Regions from separate parts of the Homo sapiens genome. Here region 1 is linked to region 2. Evidence: fine-mapped expression QTL. Tissue or cell type: lung. Region 2 holds a variant in brackets; the other region holds the start of a gene. All regions are shown on one strand. Distances are between the middles of the regions.

The links. PIP is the estimated chance that this variant, and not a neighbour inherited with it, causes the effect.
Region 1: LINC00941 starts here. The variant in region 2 is fine-mapped to the expression of LINC00941 in lung (TOPMed, PIP 0.98).

Annotation. Positions count from the first base shown.
Region 1 is chr12:30,794,509-30,797,412 of GRCh38, forward strand. It overlaps LINC00941 (long intergenic non-protein coding RNA 941), which reads left to right and starts at 1,173. Exons shown (of 5, transcript NR_040245.1): 1 at 1,173-1,708. RefSeq lists enhancers at 1-460, 963-1,462, 1,463-1,964.
Region 2 is chr12:30,816,714-30,819,617 of GRCh38, forward strand. No RefSeq gene overlaps it. Among named protein-coding and RNA genes, the nearest start is that of LINC00941, 22 kb to the left of the region's middle. The variant GT/G (reference allele first, on the strand shown) is at 1,634.

The DNA of each region.
Region 1 (2,904 bases), 22 kb before region 2:
TACCCACCACCACGCCCAGCTAATTTTTTGTATTTTTTTTAGCAGAGACAGGGTTTCATCGTGTTGGCCAGGCTGGCCAGGCTGGTCTGGAACTCCTGAAGTTAGGTGATCCACCCACCTCAGCCCCTCAAAGTGCTGGGATTACAGGCGTTATCCACTGCGCCCCACCCCAGATGCCTTTTCTATGAAGTATATCCCAGTTGGAAGTAATTTTTGTTTACCCTGGATTTCTGTACATTCACTGATTGTGCAAAGAGCTTGCCACAGGCGGCCTTGCAAGATAGTTCTCTACCTTCAAGCCTTACTTCCTCCGAAATGAGTTAGGTCCCATGACATTAGAGCCTTCGGGATATTTCTGTACAGTTCTAGTTCCTAGCATAGCGCCTTGTATTCTTTAGGTACCTGACAAATGGCCACCAACCCTCCACCGGAGAGGACTTTTTACCAAGCCTGCAGGAAGGGCCAGCTAGGCAGGCGTCTCCCTGCTTTGCCCAACAGTGAAAGTCACAGCACATTTCTCAATATTATTCACGTTAAAAACATCTTTTTCCTGCTAAATAGACACACTCTCCACCCTCTTTTAGTCAATCTTCCACAAAATTAGATAAGGAGAAATAACCCTTTGTTTCACATCCGCTGACTCAGATACGAGCATTATTCAACTGGGCGGGGGTGGCAGTGGATGGGAGGGGGCTGAGCAAACTACAAGTGGAGGAAGAAGAGGACAGCCTAGGAGAGGGAGGGCAGAAGAAAGGAGAGCACATTGTGCAGGGGCACAGTGTTTTGCTGCTCCTTTTTTTCTTTCTTTTCTTAATATGGTCCTGGCTCACAGCAAGGCCACTACCTGACAAGCAGATGAGTCACTTCCTATGGGCACAGCGGGGGTACAACTTGATAGCTACAAAACCAGACAACCTCTCGCCATGCGCTCACCCTGTTCCCAGACCCGGGTGGTGGTCTGGGGGGTTGGAAGGGGCGGGAAGGGCGCTGTCTTAAGAATCATCCTCACATCTCAGGGCTTCGCCCCTCGAGGGAGGTGACCCTTGGCCACCCTCTGCGCAGTTCTCCCTGAAAGGTCATGCCACGTCTTAGCACTCTGGTCCCTGCGCCCCTGCAGGCCTCGCGGATCCCCCACTTGTCTCGACGCAGGGGACGCCCACTTGTCTGACGCAGGGGACGTGGCTGAAGTCAGTCGGGCCGCCCGCTTGCTGCACGGCAGCCGTGGGACTGGCACAGGCTCCTCGGCAGCATTATGGGCAGCTGGTAGAGCGGCCACTTCTGAGAGCCGGATGGGCCTTCCGAGGTCGGGCCGTGCCCCGCTGGGCAGCGCAGAGGGGGTGTGTAGGGCACGCGACTTGGAGCCAGGTCCAGACCCATCCTGGCTCCTCTCAGGGCTCCTTCCCCTGCCCCCATTCCACCCCAGCCCTGCTGGCTGTCCCGCAGGACCCAGCGCCGCGGTAGCCTTCTCTGAACTGCGGCTCAGGCGGAGGTGTCACTCCTGCCTCCAGCCCAGGAGGGCAGGTCAGGTTATGCAACGCGTGCCGCGCGATCTCCCCCCACCTCCAACCCCCTTTTCTCCCGGGTCCACACCGCAGTTCCCACCGCTCCGGGTGTCCTCCCCAGTGCGCCGCGATTTTTGTGTCCAAGCCCCAGAGTCCCTCTGAGACCAACCCCCAGCCAGCACAGACTTCCTGCCTTCCCAGCTCGGGTGAGTAGCCCTGAAACGCCCGCCCCCGCCGCCCCGCGGCCGCAGCATCCTCTCGATGGCCGCGCCTCCGGGACGACGTGGTCCCCTCGAGTAGTACAGGAGCTGCAAGAGAGGCGCGCCGGGGCCAGCAAGCTCTAGAACAGCAGGAGCGGCCCCAGTTGGGACCCCGGGACGACGAGTGGCCGGCAACGCGGCGCCCGCATGGCCCAAGCAGTGTCCGGGAGGGGTCGGGGCCCCGGACTAGGGGCGCAGCGAGGACCGCCCGGAGGCTTTCCCTTGGGCAGCTAAGTCCGAGTCAGCTCTACTCGGATTTCCAGCTTCCAGCCCCGGCTCTGGTGGGGACCATGCCTAGGAGAGTAATCTGAGCTGGGGACTGGGCTCTCCTCCCGCCCCTCCCGGCCCGTGCGCCCCAGGCATGCGCTCCTCCCGCTGCTCCCTTGGCCCCCAGCGCACAGCTCCAAACCCGCGGGGCGAGCCGTCACCTTACTCTCTAGCCTTAGCCGGCCCCCAAATTTAATTTCTGCCCTGGCCGTCAAGCCATAAAAGTCGATTATAATCGCCGCCCCCCCCCGACCACCCCAACCCCCTGCCTTTGCTCTCGCCCCCGTTTCAGACTTCTCTTCTCTTCTTGAAGTCAAGCCCTCAAGTCGGGACTCTAGGAAGTCCGTTTTCTTCGTCCTAACCCCTTTGTATCCTCTCCCATCCCCACCCCTTTCACTCTGCCCTCTGGCTCTGATTTCTCGGCCTTTCCGTTTTTTCTCTCCAGGTAGAGACAGCTCCGGGCCGGGGGTGGAGGATGGTGCGGTGGGGAGGAGGCAAGGAAATTCCCAGCCTTCCTGCGCGAACCTGGGAGACCAGCAGGCACCTGGTCTCGTCCCGCTGGGTCCCCTCCGCACCCAAGACTGTCTTCCCAAGTGGCTTACTCCACAGAAGGAATGTCGTCAGCTGATTATATCTGATTAGCATCCAGTTCCGACGACTCATCCCTTAAAACGTATGCTGCCTGCATCCTCTTCTCTCTGGACCCTCCAGGACGATACCAAGTCGGGCACGCGTTTCCCCTCTTCTAGGTTCCTGCCAGCCTCATGGCCAGTCCGGGGCTTCGAGCCTCCTCTTCCCTAGTTCATCCTACATGCTCCGGCCACATTTGCCTTTGGTAAACTGCACTTTTTTTTTTTTTTTTTTTTGAGATGGAG
Region 2 (2,904 bases):
AAAAAAACTGTGCAAATATCTGTATGTAGAACTCTCTCTGACTTGTCCCTCTCACCAGGCTACAAGGAGAAGGGAGAGCTGGGAGCTGGGAGGGGAGCAGGAAGAGGGAGATCTGTGTAGGGAGGGGGAAGGGTGCCCATCCGTGACAATTGTAGGACATGTCTTTCTTCAAAATGTGGCTGCTGGAGAACCTAGACTCTGGCAACTGCGAGCTGCCCTGTGAGTCAGGTTTGGGCTTCCCCGCCTGCCTTCAGACAGGACCTGTGTCATGTGGCAGCTGGATAGCATGAGTGGAAGGACATCAGCAGAGTGGGGAACTGGGTGGTAGAGACCCTCACACCTGCCAGGAAGGTCAATGTGACTGCGAAAACACCACCAGATTGAAAATCTTCCTATATAGACCCTTGATATATCAGCCACTCCACCCCACTGGTCACTGTGGATGGGTGAACTAAACATGTCTTTCCACAAAATGGTGAGACAGCCAAGTAAAAAGTGGTCCCTGGAGAACCTCCGACTGGCCTGTGCACTGGGAGGATGGGGCAGGGCCTCAGGAAGTTCGTGCTGTTTGTAGGGGGGAGGAGCCTGGCCTCTCCTGTTCCTGGGTGGTGACCTGGAATTCAATCTGTGAGATGGGGGCCTTTTAACAGGAACCCCTTTAGCTTTGCTGAGAATCTTTTTTCTTTTTGCCCAATAAATTCTGTAACCACTCACCCTTCAAAGTGTCTGCATGCCTAATCTTTCCTGGTTGTGCGATGAGAACCTGTTTTTTTCTACAACAATGAGAAGACACAGAAGGAGCCAAAATATGCCCTTTTCTTGCCCCTATTCTCCCCACAGTCCTCTCTCTGCTGACCTTTACCCCAGAACCAGGTCTTCTTTAAAAAGCAGAATTGGCCCAGACTCTATCAGCAAGTTTTTGATTGTCCTGGGGTTTAAAGAGGGCTTCTGGGAGCCAGACAACCCTTTTCTTGGTCTCTTTGCTAAACTGATTCTAACTCCTAGAGAATGGCATTTCAATTATTCTAGGCCTGTAGGCATGGAGATACCATCATCCTCCTTTGGAACATTTATGATAATGGCTTGATGGTGCTGAAAACCCCAATTACCAGGGTTCTAGTCTATCCCTAACCTAAATTCTTATTCTATATTTTTGCCTTTAGGAGTGCTGAGTGTGCATCGTTCAGCCTCTATAAAGCAACCATCACCCTTTTGATGATTCCAAACTCCTCATTTTCAGAGTGTTCTTATTTCTCAGAAAGATTTGAACTTGGGCATGGAAAGGTCTGCTTCTCCTGTGCTGGCTCTGCTGTCTTCAGCTGGAGGGTCAGGAGACATTCTGGATGGAGAACGGCTGTCAGGGAGTGATAGGCAGCTTCACTCCAGACAAGTACCTGGAATTTGGAACCAGGGAAACGGGAGGATAAGAGACATCCTCTTGTTCTTTGACCTGATTCCCCAGTCAGCGGGAAGCCCACTGGGGGCTATAACTAACAGCTTCTGAATAGCAGGGAAATTTTCACTAATCCAAGTCAAAACCTAGAAAAAAGCCTCCTCTTTTTATCTCAAAACCATGAAAATCTTCTAGGAACAGGCAGAAAACAAACAGCTGGAGTTTTTTGTTTTTGTTTTT[GT/G]TTTTTTTTTTGCTTCTTGTGGCCATGCACATGAAGAATTACTAAAAGATCAAGATGTAGAAATAAAAGAGGCAGGGCTGCTCAGAGGACAAATAAAAATTAAGTTGATCAAATCAAAGACCTTAAGTTGTGCTTCTTCAAGTCCTTTGGTTCCTCAGCCACTGGCTGTTTTCTCCTGCCATGCAGGGGTTTTCAGGAGGGCTACAGGAGATTTGGCAATTATGTTTCACAAGGTCATAGGGAAAATTCCATTTTAGGTGGAGAGTAGACATCACCAAGCACATCATGGATGTGGTTCATTGATGTCACTATTCATTGAACTAATCTATCCTGATGATAGGCATCGTACATCAGTCTTAGACTAAATGACCAGCAGGTCAGGCTAGGAAAGATCCACTGCCCTAGATGGGGAACTCCCATCTATACCTCCTTCCCTCACAGCAGCACTGGGCAAGGTGTCCTTGTCACAGCTGACATCTTCCTTGTAGGGTGCAGGGAGGAAGGCTACTCTGGCCAGTGTTGACATTAGACAAGAAGGGAGCCTGTGGGTATGAGTGGGAAAGGTGAGGGGATCATAACTGGCAGGACCCTGGGAGTTGTGGGCAGGAGCCCACCCCATAGCCCATGCCACTGTCCAGTGAGACCTGGGAATGAAAAATTCAAAAGAGAAGGCAGCAGAAAACTTTTGAGAGAGAGAAAGATAGAGAGAGAGAGAGAGAGAGAGAAAGAGAGAGAGAGTGTGTGTGTGTTGGGTCTGTCAAAACTCCAAATTTCCATCTAGGGGCCAAATATACAGCAAGAACCAGTTGTCAGTTCAAAAGGGCCCCCATCACCATCATAACTAGAATCTTAGCAGCGCAGTGGTAGAAACCTTGGGAAACTAGAAAAAGGATGTTACCTAAAGTCAATTTCTAGAAGACCTTTATGGCAATGAAAAGGAACCAAGAAAATCTAGATGGGCTGAACTTGGAGAACCACAAAGACTCTTGTTTCTAGACTCTAGAAACAGTTAATCTGGGAGTTACTGACACTTTCTCCACTTTTTCATGAATCAGTCCATGAAAGCACAACTCATCGTCATTGAGGAATGGATGATGGTCTATTTTAATTTCTAGCTTGCTGATACAAGTGCCAAGAGGGGCTGAACACTGGGACTACAAGAGATTCAATGAGCCAATTCAGGGTGAATAGTTGGGTCCTATTTTCCCCAAAGCAGTTGCTTTTCAACCATCATTGTCAAAATACATTTGAAGGACACAACACCATAGGG